Homo sapiens: one gene and its partner. The protein of the gene in region 1 purifies or fractionates together with the protein of each later gene. This does not show direct contact. Each region holds a gene or a part of one and is shown on either strand. Other genes may lie near its edges.

The links. Proteins that work in one complex are often made in the same cells at the same time.
Region 2: the proteins of TRIM11 (region 1) and QKI purify together in Homo sapiens (affinity purification with mass spectrometry; 2 studies listed by BioGRID and IntAct, with this or other methods). This does not show direct contact.

Annotation. Positions count from the first base shown.
Region 1 is NC_000001.11:228,403,734-228,411,314, forward strand, and holds the start of TRIM11 (E3 ubiquitin-protein ligase TRIM11), read right to left. Parts: upstream 3,103-7,581; 5' UTR 2,829-3,102; coding exon 2,421-2,828; intron 1-2,420. Other genes in the region: E3 ubiquitin-protein ligase TRIM17, read right to left, coding at 4,468-5,018, 5,439-5,542, 5,656-5,678, 7,213-7,443.
Region 2 is NC_000006.12:163,529,360-163,537,115, reverse strand, and holds part of QKI (KH domain-containing RNA-binding protein QKI), read right to left. Parts: intron 2,135-7,756; coding exon 1,991-2,134; intron 1-1,990. UniProt on the Homo sapiens protein: RNA reader protein, which recognizes and binds specific RNAs, thereby regulating RNA metabolic processes, such as pre-mRNA splicing, circular RNA (circRNA) formation, mRNA export, mRNA stability and/or translation.

The DNA.
Region 1 (7,581 bases):
AACCTCTGCCTCCTGTGTTCAAGTGATTCTTCTGCCTCAGCCCCCTGAGTAGCTGGGATTACAGGTGCCCATCACCACACCCAGCTAATTTTTGTATTTTTTGTACAGATGGGATTTCACCATGTTGGCCAGGGTGGTCTCAAACTCCTGACCTCAGGTGATCCGCCCACCTCGGCCTCCCAAATTGCTGGGATTACAGGCGTGAGCCACCACACCTGGCCAACGTTTTCAGTTTTCAACACTAAGGTTACAAACAGCATTTGATCAGATGGAATGGGCTGTAAAGCAGCACAACATACCCAGCATGGCAAAGATCTTGCATTTCAGGTACCTGCATCTTTGTGTCTCTGGCCAGATCAGAACAGAAACCTCTTACCCTGCGTGTAGTCAGAACTGGGATGCTGGGGCTTGGTGCAGGCCTGGGATCTTCCCTGGCCTCCTCCTTCCTGTGGCAAACCCCCTCCCCACACAAGTGCCATCTGACACACAACCCAGAGAGATCTGGGGGCCATCTTCTCTCTCCCATGGTGCTGCTTCCTGGAACTGGAGCTTACTGGGACTTCCCTGTTTACCACCTCGGGGCAACCCAGCCTGGGGCTTGTTCAGCTGTCATGACCCCAGGTCAGGGCCAGGCAAGGAGTGAACCTGTCATGGAGCTAATGGGCCCCAGCTCTGGCAAGTGGACACACAGCCCCATAGGTGGGACTGAGCTTTCTAGGCCCATGGGGGCAGGTAAAAGCAGTTTGCTGTGGTTAACATAACCTAGGCTCTAAGGCAGTGAAGAACAGGATGTCATCCCCAAATATACCGCTGTGGTACAAGAATTATTCTGAGTAAAAGCAGATGCAGGAAGAGCTCTCTGTACTCCTATCTGCCTAAAAGTAGGGTATTCATTCCCCATGAGAAAGGCACCCTCTCTCTACCAGGAAGAGGAGGGCACTCTAATCCTGGGAGATGATTCTGCCTAAACAGACCTTACTACAATGACCATTATCTTGTGTTAATTCTTCCCATCTATTTCCTAGTCACTTTCCCACAATTTATCAGTCCTAGACGCCCAATCCCATTTCTGTGTCCAGTCACTTCTCCACAATTCACAAACCTTTGCTGAAATACGCTTTTCTATGAAGTTCTTGTGCATGTGAAACTTAAAATATTAATCAAATTGTATGATTTTTTTTCCTGTTAATTTGTCTTGTGCCAGTTTAATTTGCAGCCCTGAGCCACTGAACCTAACAGGGTAGAGGGAAATTTTTTTCTTCACCTGCAAAAGAAAGGGTTAAGTGCTATCCCATGAAACTATATCGAGTCAACTCTATAGAGCTATTGGGCACTCTCTGCACCCATTGGGGTAATTGGTGTCACAAGGGTAATTCTGCTGGGCTAACATGTTTCAGGTGTAGACATTCCTGCATGGGCAAAGAAAAGAAAACCCAAATGAATCTGTGTCTGAACAAGCCCACGGATATGGCTCTAAACCACCTTTCTGCTAAAATCCAAAGCAGAAGGGGACAGATTCAGATTTATTCTAGTATCCCAGAAGTTTGCTCTGTGATAGGGACAGATCAAGCTCAGTACTGATTCTAACACTGCCTTAACTGCTCATCTGGCACACACAAGTGACCATGATGCAACACACAAAGTGCAATCAAGAAAGCTCCAAAGATGCTGCCATCTGCCCCACACGTAGGCTCCCAGGAGCACACCTGCAGCAGGTCAGCGAGGAAAGAGGACAGCGGGAGGGAGCGCAGGCCAGGGAACGTGTGCCCCAGGCCCTTCAGCTCGGGTTTTATTTGGGTTTTAAGCAGCAAGACAAGGGGAGAAAAGGCAGGCTGAGCCCTGGCATCTCAGATGGCAGAGATGGCTCCCAGTACCCCACCCAGAAATGCAGGGCAGCCCTGGAGGGGAGGTTAGAGAGGAAACGACTGTGTCCCCCTCATCCTGCCCAGTCTGGGGCTTTCCCAGGACTTAAGTACTGACCTGCTAACACAGTCCCTGCAGGGAGTCCATCTAGGATCGGCCACCTCTGAGGTTCTCCCACTTTCCTCTGATTCCAGCTCCTTGCTGGCCAGGGTATGGCCACATTTTCCTTGCCCCCACTCCACCACCTTCCACCTTCCACCTTCCTCTCTTAGCCTCTATCTATGAGAGGTACGCCCCTCACCCCCGAGAGCAGGGTCTCATTGGCGGCCATGGTCCCAGCCTCAAGGGGCCTGGTTGAAACAGGCTGTGTCATGAGCCCCCACAGCCACCCTGCGCGACACCCCCCTCACAGGCCCACAGCAGGCTGCATCCTGAGCTCCCCGCCCTAGACAGAGACAGATTACTCCCGGAGCAGTCCCCCAAACCTCCCACCCGCCCAGGCCTCCCCAGTCCCCGGCTCCCCGACGCCCCTGCACGCCACCCCCGCCCAGGAGCACCTTGAGGTCTTCGGCCGCGTCCTGCAGCGGCCGCACGCGGTGCGCCCAGTGCTCCCCAGAGCGCTCGCAGGCCGCACACAGGAGGCGCAGCTCGTCGCCACAGAAGGCGGCCAGTGGCTCGCGGTGCGCGGGGCACACGCCCTGCGGGACCGGCGACGGCGGGTGCAGGCGCCGCGCCATCTCGGCCATCTTAGCAAGCGGGCGGTTGGGCCGCAGGTTCCTCTGCGGGGACAGCTCGCGGCACTCGGGGCACGCGTACGGGCCCTCGGGCTGGCCCCAGCAGCGCCGGATGCACTCGCGGCAGAAGTTGTGGCCGCAGTCGGTCATCACCGGATCCGTGAAGTAGTCGAGGCAGATGGCGCAGGTGGCCTCCTCCTGGAGGTTGGTGGACAGGTCGGGGGCGGCCATGGCGCGGACAGAGGGGAGGAAGGCGGTACTGTCCGCGGGGCGGCGGCGGGCGGCCTCGGCAGCTCGCGGGGACGCGGGGTATCCGGGTGCGGCGGCGCAGGCTCGGGCACTCCGGGGCGCGAGGCTCGGGACTCCCGGGTGCTCGGGCTCCGGGGCGCGGGGACTCCAGGGCGCAGGACTCTGGGTTTCGGTAGCGCTGGGCGCGTAGGCTCCGAGCGCTCGGGGGACGCGGGACGTAGGGATCCCGGATGCCGGCAGGAAGAGGAGCCGAGGCGGAAGCAGGAAGCGACTGGGTGGGTTTTGTGTGTTTTTTTTTTTTTTTTTTTTTTTTTTTTTTTTTTTTTGGAACAACCCGCTTTTGCCTCCGATTGGCCGCTGCCAGTCACGCGGCCCGCGGGCGGGACGGAATTGGAGAGCTTTCACTTGCTGACCTGGCGTCACCACCGCTCCGGTTCTTGTGGCCAGGTCTTTTACCCCTGCCCTGGGGAGGACTCAGGCGCAGGGGAGGGATGGGGACAGGGGGCGGGGCGCAGGGGAGGGATGGGGACAGGGGGCGGGGCGCAGGGGAGGGATGGAGCAGGGGGCAGGGCAAGGAGGGATGGGGACTCAGGGCGGGGCACACGGAAGCAACTGCAAGGACTAAGGGAGTCCGCAGCCTGGGGCATTGGAGCCCTTCGCCATACCCCTAGTGCGTCCTCACCCCCTCAGCCCGTGCTTCCCAGGGCGGGTATCCTCGGAAGGCCCGGCCCTCACAGCCTTGGCAGGCCAAGGTCAGAATGATTGGAGTTGGGGGATGGGACGGGGGCATCCCTCCAGGACCAGCTCTCCAGGAGGCCCACATTCTTTCTGCGGGAACCACTCCAAAGGGGCATGCTGTTCCAGGCAGCCCCTCGCGCAGACACTCCGGCTTTGTCGAGGTAGGAGTACGCTTACTCTGGAATTCTGCCTTGCTAGTGACTGACACAGGCTGTTAAAGTGCTTGACCCTGCAGGGGTGGGTGGGGGGTTCCTTGGAAAAGGTAAGGGCGCTGTGGAAAAGAGGCCCCTACATAAATCCTAATCTCTTTGGGATTTTGCCCCTGCTCGTGCAACTTTGGGGATCGAACGGGATGGGGGTGGGCAGCTCTGAGGCTTTTTACGGGTTCAGCCTTTCCCATTTTCCCCCATCGAAGGACCCAATAGGATGCATAGGACATTTCTATGGGCAGCCTGGGACCATCCCTGACACAGCAACCACCCCCGCTCCTCCCCACCATAGGATATTTCTACTTCTTTGACAGAGTAACCTAAACCCCTGGGGGGGCTGGGAGCCACAGATTCCTGTCATTCCAAAGTGGGGGTGGGGGCATGGCTAAAAAAAACGTGACCACGCTGTTCCTGGTGTGTAGGTATGGATTTAGAAATCGGTCCACTCAGAACGCAGGGGCTTTCAAAAGTTTCCTCTAGGAAGCATCTGTCAGTATACCCTCTTAATGTTTGACAGTTCTAATCACAATTATATTTAGAATTTGAGAAACCCCCCTGTGTGTCTAATGGCTGCCAGCGTGATGCCAGAGAACCCTGGCAGGTGGCCTGCAGTAAGCAGAAGGCCCACACCTTCTGCAGAGCCAGGAGCAGTGCCCGAGTCCCCCGGTCTGTGTCTATCCTTTCACCCACATGGTCACTGTGGAGATGACCATCTGACCAGACTTCGGAGCCCCCAGGCAGAAGAAAGGCTGCAGGGGGCCTGGGAAGGTGGCCTGGGAGTAGGTGTGCAGGTGGGACCCATCGCTTACACTGTAGAAGGACACTTCCCCGGCTTCGAAGTCCAGGAAGATGCCCATGTGGCTGGGAGGCTCCATCAGCATGACCGGGGTTAGGGCAGAGAAGGTGGATAAGTACTTGGTCCCCTTGGACAGCTGCACCACCCAGAAGCCGTTTTCGGGGCACTTGGGGACCCTGTCTTTCCGGCTCACGTTGTCCCTGCACACACCCAGGGCCCACAACGCGTCCCCGGTGATGTTCATGCCCACCTCCCAGTAGTGCCTCCCAGAGGAGAAGGCCGTCTGGCCCACAGCACAGGGGTAAGCCACAAATCGGTCCTTGCTGCAGAACCCACTGCCCTCCGGCGAAGAGCCGAGGTAGCGCCTCTGGCGGCTCTCATACAGGAGGAGGTAGGGGTACGCGGAGGTGGCATCAGGCACCACATCCTCTGTAGATGGGCGTGGTGGTGGAGAGATGGGGAGAGGTGTGGGGCATTCAGGGTCAAAGGTGGGAGTCCCCGGGCCCTAGTGGTGGATGTGGCCAATGGTCCCCTAACTCCGCAGAGGCCTCCCCTGCTGTGAATCTGGGGTTACTTGATGCTTCCACACACCAATTGTGTGTGGGCCTTGGTGGCAATAAGGTACAGGGGGCTGGGCAGAGAGACCACTGGGAACTCAACAAGATTCATCCCATGAATTAGAACCACCAGTAACGCCGCCCTACGAAGGCACAGTGAATAGCCAGTGACCGTCACCAGGCAGTGCACTTGTAGAACCCCCCCCATTGGTGGCTTCCGAGGCTAGGGGGTACAGTGGGGCATCGCCAAGAGATCCTGGGTCAGAGGTCCTGGCCCTGGGTGCCCACTTACCTAGAAAGCCTCTTAGCACTTCAATCTGTCCGGGAACTCTGCACACAGTCCTGGGTCTGGTTGGGGGGGCAACCTCTGGGCACTGCACACTCACGTTGTTCTTCCTCCGGTGGGCACACACAGGGGAGTCTTATTGACTCCCCTGGCCCGACAGTCTTATTGTCCCCCCCGCCCACCGCTGCCACTGCCCCCGCCCCTGCCTGAGGGGACCACATACCTGCTCAGGGGTTCCTTCATGTCCTGCAAAAGACAGGGACGGAGGGTGGGGAGTGAGCCAAGCTCCTGGCTCACCTCAATGTCCCTGCTCCCTTCTTGTCCGTGTCTTAGGGCAAGACCCATCCTGTCCCCTGGGCATTCCCTTCCCACAATTGAGCTTCATGGCACTCCTGAGCCTTCCCCACTGCCCTAGCTCCCACTACCACCAGAGCCCCCAGTGCCTCACCTAAGCTGAGCTACCCTGTCAGCCCACGGCCACACGCCTGAGGTCCTGCAACTCAGGAGAGGCGGAGGGACCCCTTCCAGGCAAGTGGCCACTCAACACTGACCCTCCTCTCCCATTTCAGGTGGGTGCAGCCCACTCAGCAGGAATGGGGTGGGGGCGCAATTGGGTGCAGTTTGGGGAGGGAGGGGGGTGGGTAAGAGACTGAGGCACCTGGGGATTTTCTGTAGCCTCTTTAGGGATTCAGAGTTCCCTAAAGAGATCACTGTTTACTTCTCTGGCCTGGAAGCTACAAGGGACTTGTTTTCCAAAGGCCATATTTCTAGTTGCCAGAGCGTGACCCTAACTCTAGGCAGGGACTCTCATGCAGGTGGCGCGCTTGGCCCTCTGCTCATAGGAGCACCCTTCTACCAGCTGCAGGGGCTTTTCCCTCAGTTGGTCAGCAAACCAATGTAGTGGGTTGTGAACAGGCTGCTTTGTTTTTCCTTTTCCTTTTTTTTTTTTTTCCTAGATGTGATCTCACCATCACCCAGGGTGGAGTGCAGTGGCGCAATAGCTCACTACAGCCTTGAACTCACGGGCTCAAGCAGTCTTCCTGCCTCAGCCTCCTGAGTCCTGGGACCACAGGCGCACGCCACCATGCCCTGCTAATATTTTTAAGTTTTTGTAGAGATGGCGTCTTATCAGCCGTAATCAAGCCCCCTCTCCAGGGCCATGGCACACAGGCTGGTCCCGGCAGACAGGCTGGCTGCTTCACCTCCCCACTGCCGTTGCCACACAACTCACTCCTGGGACAGTGCACCTCCTCCACACCGAGACATGGAGTCCCTGTCCCAAAGCCACACCTGGCTGCCAGGTGTCCCAAGCCACCTCTCTGGACTTGGAAGGAAATGGGGACACTGTCTCAGGTTGGAACCTGTAAGGGGCTGACTTGTGTCCCCACTAATTCACAGGTTGAAGCCTGAACCCTCAGGACCTCAGAATGTGACTGTGTTTGGAGATAGCATCTTTAAGGAGGGAGTTGAGGTCACTGGGGTGGGCCCTAATCCAGTCTGACTGGTGTCTTTATACAAGGAGATGATTAGGACAGAGACGTGCATAGAGAGATGATGCCATGAGGACGCGGGGAGGAGACGGCATCTTCAGGCCTAGGAGAGAGGCTCAGGAGGAACCAGGCCTGCCCGCACCTTGGCCTCAGCCACCCAGCCTCCAGGACTAGCAGACTGGGAGCTAACAGCCCTTTCCCGTTGGCTGCCTCTTCCCCAAGCCCAGCGCCCCCTGCCCATGCCTGTCAGAGCTCACATCCCACCCTGCCTGCCAAGCCTACTGGCTCACCTGCAGCATCTGGAGGGGCCCCTGTGTGCTCCGCTCCTCCAGCTGCAGCAGCAGCAGCTCCAGAGAGTGACCCTGCCGGTCCAGGCAGGCCACGCTCTCCCGGAGCCTGCTGGCAGTCTCCTCTTCTTCCGTCTCCAGAGCCTGGAGGAGCCTCTGCTCTTCTTCCACCAGGTAGAGGTTCATCTTCTCAAACTCCAGCACAATGCGTTCTCTCCGCTCCTTCACCTTGCCCTGCAGGAGTGGAGAAGCCCAGCATGTTGCCAGCAGGTGGCTCAGCTCCAGGGATGCTGGCACCTCTCCCCAGGGCCCTGGTGACCCACAAGATCACCAGCAACTGGAGCTTTAGTTGGGGACCAGGAACTGTGACAG
Region 2 (7,756 bases), on another chromosome or scaffold:
CCACATTAGCCTCCCAAGTAGCTGGGACTATAGGCATGTGCCACCAGGCCCAGCTACTTTTTAAATTTTTTGTATAAAGGGGTCTTGCTATGTTGCCCAGGCTGGTCTCGAACTCCTGACCTCAAATGATCCTCCCACCACAGCATCCCAAAGTGTTGGGATTATAGGCATGAGTCACCATGCTTGGCCATGTTCCAATCTCATAGATGAGAAAATGAAGACAGTTAAAAGTCACAAAGCTGGGATTCAAAAACCAGGAAGTGAGTTCTCAAAAATATGATGTATTCTGTCTCCCACATTTATTTAAGTAAAAACCCAAATCATTTGATGCTTCAGGAAAATTCAGTTATTTTATGCATTTCTATAGTGAAGATGAAGGAACTGATTTTACCTTATGACAAGATTCAATCATTTATTTTTCAATTTACTATGTTATTGCTATGTGCTGGGCTCTATGCTAAACACTAGAAATAAAAATGGTAAGCAAGACAAGAGATTACAGGTGACTGGGTAAATAGAAAATTTAAAAGACGCTAACAATATCCAGTTGATCCTCAAACAACAAGGGAGGGCTCGGTTGTCAGGGACACAGACTGCATCAAAGATCCTTGTGTAACTTTCAACTCTCCCAAAATGTGACGAATAGCCCACTGTCGTCTGGAAGCCTGACAGTTGATCAACATATATTTTGTATGTTTTATATGTTATATACCGTATTCTTACAATAAAGTAAGCTACAGAAAAGAAAATGTTATTAAAGCAGTAAAAGTCGATGTTAAATAACTTTTTCTGATCATGACACTAATTGCCCAGTATACTTTCGAAAATCTCCTTTTCTATACAGTTTTTCAATACCACACAATTAAGGAAAATGAGAAAGATTCCATGGTTTAATAGTACACAAATATAGATTTTAGTTTATATTTAACCTGATCATTAAAAAAAATAAAATCTACCAACAGAATTTACATAAAACTCTTTTATTCCAAGGAATTAATTTCATCAAGTTAATGGGAAATGTTTATGATTTGTGAGTTTACTTGTTGAATAAACTATCAGGGTAATAAAGAATAGGCTATCTGGGAAATAAAAAGCAGCAGGAACCATAACTCATTTATGTAAATGCCAATGCTTTTTGTTGGACACAATACTAACAGTATTCCTAGTTTTTTCTTTTCTTTTTTGAGACAGGGTCTCACTCTGTCACCCAGGCTGGAGTATAGTGGCGCAATCTCAGCTCACTGCAACCTCTGCCTCCCAGGCTCAGGCGATTCTCATGCCTCAGCCTCCCAAGTAGCTGGGATTACAGGTGCCTGCCATCACGCCCGACTTATTTTTTGTATTTTTAGTAGAGATGGGGTTTCACCATGTTGGCCAGGCTGGGCTCAAACTCCTGACCTCAGGTGATCCAACCGCCTCAGCCTCCCAAAGTGCTGGGATTACAGGCATGAGCCACCGCACCCAGCCCTAGTTTTTCCAATAGCAAATTAGGGTCCACATTTCCATATAGTTTTACTAATATAAGAAAAAAAAATTAATGGCCCAGAAAACCAGTAATTTATTTTTCATTTCCCGTTAAAAAAAAAAAAATTATACTCTGGGAGTAGTACAATTATTATTTCTAAAAATATTAAAGGGTTAAGAAACAATAAGGAGCCAACCCAAGGAAGGGGGGCAGAGGGAAGAGATGGGGGAAGAGATGGGGAAAGAGAAACCGGGAAGGAAGGAGAACTGATAACACAAAAGCATCTGGATAATTTCTTACGCGACGTCACCCTCCAAAACCCCTTTTAATGTCTATCTAAGGACCCCTAAATACGAACTTTATGTTTTTATTATGTTAGAAGTATCAGTCAGGTGTTTTTAATTTTATGCTTAAATAAAATTTCTAACAACCAATAACCTATTCCTTATAAACATTACGATAATTTAAAATAAACTGACAAAAAAGGACGAGGCCCAAATCTAAGGTCTGGAAATTATTACTTACTGCAGGTACCAATAATTTCTTCACTTCTTCAACTGCTCTCTTCAATTTGATTTCTGCTCTGTTCTGAGCATCTTCCACAGTGATTAGTACATGTAAATCTTCATTTAGATGCTCCCAATTGGGCTTGCCTCTATTTTGCTCCTCCTAAAAAATTTACAGAGTACATGATTAAAATTATTCTCTTTAAAGAGAGAGCACATCTTTCATAATACTAACCTGTTGTCAATTATTTCAGCTATGTTTGCATTATTTTGCTATGATGGCACAAGTCTTTGAATTATTTTTCTGGGTCCTCAAAGTTTGATTGAATGTGAGACTACTGGGTCAAATGATAATTAATCCAACAAGTATTTACTGAGCACTTACTATCTACCAGGCACAGAACCAGATGCTAAAGATCAGCCCCAAGCGTGCTCCTATGCACTAGAAGCATACATCATCATCATGTATGTAGTATCATACAACATACATCTGATACTGTCCTTACATTACCATGAAAAACACTTTGAGAAACATGTCATTATTTCTGCATTTTACTTATAAGTAAACAGAAGGTCATCAAGGTTAAGGGGGTCACCTCTCAATGTCACACAGCTAACAGGCTGTCAATTTAGGAACTGAATCAAAGTTTTCATTCTCTAATTCAGTGATCTTTCCACTTCATTACAACTGCTTTTAATGACATTGGTTGTATTCAGCATTAGAAAAGGTATTTTGCATATAGATGTTATTGTGTAAGATGACTACCACTTGTTTTAAGTATTTCATGCGGTAATTATGAAAATAGTTTTATCTACATTCCCATCAGACCATACCTTAAAATTAACTGTAAGGCTACTCTTTAATTATATCAAGTCATAAATACTAGTTTCATAGAGAATATCTATATTTCATTTCCTTAATGTCTTCTAGTAAGAAATATCCCCATGTTGAAAACCTGGTTAAGCTACAGGGAGGTTAAGTAGAGTTGGCATAATTTCAGAATCGCTGTTTTAAGTTTTAGAGAAAGTGTTTTTAAATAAAATAAGAATATATAAGTAGTATATAAATGGTAAATATAAATGCACCTGGCACACAGCAAGGTACCACAGACAAACAATAAATATCTGCTGTTTTTGGACCTTTATTTTAGAAGTTACTATTTACCTAATTGTTAGATTCCAGTAAAAGAAAATAAAGCAGGCATAATAAAACTGCTTTCTGCAACAATTCACATGATTGAGCTTAGCCAATAAGGCTAAAAATAAATTTTAACAGTAAATGCTTCTGCTTTATTTTTAATCAACACATCTTTAGGATGAAAATGCATCCACATATTGTAAGGGGATACAGGGAAAAAAAAAATCAGACACAATCCTATGCTGGGCCATCTATGTATTTCCAAAGAGTGAACTCTGAGTCAGCACAGCATTTTACAGGGGTACCATCTGTCCGACACTGTGTGAACCACCAGCTCAGAATATCTGACTGTTTCAACATAAGGTCACATTACATTCTTTTTGATGATGTCATATCTTTACAAAGCTAGGTTGTTAGCGGTTGCTGTAATAAAAATCAAGAACATACAAAAATCAATGTGGAACAAGAAAAGAGGGTGGCAGTACAAAAATCTGATTCCAAAGTTTGAGAATTTGAACAGCACCCAAGAAAATACAAATGCTATTAGTAAAAATGTGGTTATTTACAAATAAAATGTATAGTCTGTTTCAAAGTTGTTTGTAGAGTAAATATTTAATAAACAGAACTCTGAAATATTTCTTTTTGACTAGGGTACACCATGCAAACTAAGTGGGAAACCAAGGAGTCAATGAATCAAGAAACTGGAAACCTCAGGGTTATCTGTATGGCAAGAAATAAAATATGTATTAATATCTCTAACTGTGGCAAGAAAAATTAGTTTTGTTATCCAGATTTCAATTGTTATGTTCAAGAATGCTAACAGTATTTTCTCACCAAAATTTGTATTTTTTATTTATCTTTTTTTTTTTGGAGAGAGACCTACAAAAGCTACTAGTCTGGTATTATTTGGTGGGCCTAAAAGTGCACCTATTTGACTAAACGCATATATATGAGGGACTTCTGTTTCCAGGCAAGATATAGTAACAGGAACCAGATTCACCTTCCTGCTGAAACAACCAAAAAACTGGCAAAACGTATCAACAAGTTTCAAGCCACTGGACATCAGACAACTAAGGACAAATGACACAGAGTTGGGAACAACTGAGGTGAGCCTATAACTGCCCCCACTCACTGGCTTGAGAGTCTCCAGACAACTCCATGAGGAGACTAAGCAAGAGTCCAGGGAAACCGAGGCAGCCAAAGCTCAGAGAGTCCTGGGAGAGCTGCCACTCAAATATTCAGCTGAACCCTGATCGTTGCATACTTGAGAGAAAATTCCAGAGGCCAGGGAAGGAACCACCCAAAAGGATTCCAGGTCAAAGTGCCTGGCTCTAGAAAAGAACAAGACTGAAAGACTTGAAGGATTCCCCACGGGTAAGGGACACAGAAAGGTCTTGCCTCAGTGGTAGGAAAAAACTAAACCTAATCTAAGCATTGTTCCAGTACAACTAAATACATTTTAAAAGTAAGACCAAATGCCTTAAATTATTTCCAACTAACTTAACTGTGTCCCAGGACAAAGCTCAAAGATATTTATAGGAATATAAAAATATCCACCCAACAAGGTAAAAGTCTGGCATACAATTAGAAATTAACGGGCATGCAAAGCAGCAAGAAAAATGCAATACATGAGACCACCTCCCCCCCAATCAATTCACTCAAACCAATCTAGAAGTGATACAGATGTTATTATAAATAGACAAAGACATTAAAAGCTCTATGTGTGTGTGTCAAACACTAATGCATATAGATACTAATACAATGAAAACTGAGGAACATTTATAATCAAATATTTTTGAGAAAAGCTTAAGAATAAAAACTAAAATTTGACTTGCCGCAGAAACCTCTATACATGGAGAAAAGCCAGAGAATTTAAAAGGAATAATTATTTTCATGATAGAAACAAAGTTGCAGTATTATTTGCCATTTTGCTTTATTGCAAGAATACATTTTTAAGGTGTAAAACACTTGGCCAATGCGTACTCTTACTAATTCAACAACTTAAATGATAGTTAAAAATATAAAAATAGGAGAAAGCTACATCTACCCTGTTTGCTTCAAAATCAACATTTTTGCTTACACTTTTAAAAACAATTGAAGGAGCAAAAATTTTCAAAGATGGAGAAATTAATGGAATGGTGTACTTACACTCCCACCAAAAATTCTTCTACAACACTGCAGAGTTTAAAATGTACAAACTCAGCCGGGCACAGTGGCTCATGCCTGTAATCCCAGCACTTTGGGGGGGCCGAGGCAGGAAGACTGCTTGAGCCCAGGAGTTCAAGGCCAGCCTGGGGAACAGTCAGACCCTGTGTCTATTATAAATAAATAAATAAAATGTCCAAACTCGTAAGAAGTAAGAAAATGGGAAAGGAAACCATTTAAAAATTAAGAATCTAGAAAGCAGATGGTTAACTTAAAATTTACCTGACTCTAGTTAAGAAAGAAACTTATTTCCTTGCAATCCACCCCAAAAATACTGAGGAAATGGGCAGCAGTGAAAACAGGGGTGAGGGTGGGGCTGAGATTGCAGGACTAGATGAACTCTCATTAAAAAGCAGTTCAATTCCCATATCCCCTGTCCACAAATGGCTAGCTATCAAGCACTCCCTAATTCCCAGCAGTAGACCAGAAACTGATTCTGAAAGGAAGTAAAACACTTGCTCAAACTGCATTAGGAGAACAGTTGACAGGGTAACTTCCACTCTGACAGCTGGGCTGGCCGGCCATCTCCCCTGCTCCAAATGCAGAGCAAGGGAACCCAGGCCCACATCTTGGGGACAGGAGACTTGAACAACTGACCCTTCAGAGAGTTAATAAAAGACGCTACAATGCTGAAACAAGAATGCTCTATTTAAAAATTTTGAATACAAATAGAAACTCCTGCAACTAAAAACATGAGAGCAAAGATGAAAAATTTGATAGAAGGTTGGAAGACAAACTGAGGAACTCTCCAAGTAGCAAAAGACAGAGATAAAAAAAAATGGTGCAGAACTGTATAATATTAGAGGACTAGTCCAAGAGGTTCAGAAACTGAAATGACGATGTCCAACTACCAATATAAAGAAAAAGAAAGCAGAGGGAGAAAAATCATCAATGTTATATATTTTTCGCAAAACTGAGGGATCTGAGGTTCCAGATGAAAAGGACCCACTGAGTTTTCACCACAAGGAATAAATGAAGCGGACACTTCAAAATCAAACAATGTAGCAATTGAAAGTAAACACTAAAAGCACCTCTTTTAGTGTTTTGGAGGGGGTGCAGTGTGAAGAGAGAGACCGACCAACCCGTTTTCCACATCAGGCCTCAGAAAATCTTTCATCCATGTGCATATCAAATGTCACACAAAAAAAGGCTTTGAGGTCATGCTACGCAGAAGCCATGAAGCCATATTCATTCTACTGTAGTCCATTCCAGCTCAAGAAGAGTTAAATTCCTTCAGTGAGTTTGCAGCTTAGTAATTATTTAATACAAATACTATTTCTCCCTGTGATCTCATTCTGTTTCTTAAGCAGATTATAAAGGCAATCTGGGATTGGCAAATTTTATAGAGAAATCAATAAAACACACCCCAAAAGGTCCTCTTTTAGTCATTAAGGATAGATGCAATTATAGGATGGTTACTTCTGAACTTAAAATATCCATAGTAAGAATCCACTCACAAAACCCATTTTCTCACTTAAATACATCAGGACAAAGAAAAGGTTGAAATAAGCAGACAGGAGGGATGATGATATGGACGCACACCAAAAATGCTGTATTTATTAGAAACTGTGTTCTACGAGGCATTCGTTTCTTTTTACAATTATGTTTCAAACAATCTTTCAGGGGTTAATAGCTGAGATACTGATGTGGAAAAAAATAGCTCATGACTACTATAATGTCTGTTTTACAGTTACCATTTGCAATATCATTTCATAATATATGTGCTACTAAATCTTCAGCAACATAGAAGAACACAGTTTTGCATCAATATAATCCCAAATTTACATTTTCCAGCACAGTACTGCCCCCTGATTTCTAGACCTCCAAATTCAACTGCCAACTAGAAATGTATACTTCAATCTCTAAAGCAGTCTGAACTCCACATGTCCAAACTGGGGTTCATACCTCCCTGCTGCAAATCTGTCCACAATTAATGTCTCAGCTATTACTCATCCTGAATGAATTTTCTGAATCAGCGTGGATTTTTAGAATTTGAGGCTTTGTAGGAAATCTCTGAAACACAGTCATGGCTTACTTGTGCTTTGACAGAGACTGGCTGCTGCACATGCACCCATTCACATCTATCCACACTAATCTGAAGTGCCGTGTTCATTCACTTCCCACGATAGGCTCAGATTTACTCCATGCTGTATTACTGGCCATTCCCCAAACATGGATTTTGACACCCATAAGTTTATGGAAGCTATCTATCGCCTATGTCTAGAATGCCTCCTTTCCCTTTCTTTAATATTTACTTTTATTTCTTTTTTTTCTGTATTATATAGTAACTTAGTTATCTGTGCATTGTCTTTTTCTAGCTATTAGAAAGTTTGCTCCAAGTTGAATATCAGAATCATCTCACTGATTTTCATACTCTTGACAGTATGTACACATTGATTTTACACATATCTGGCTCTAAACAAGTATTTACTGAATTGAATA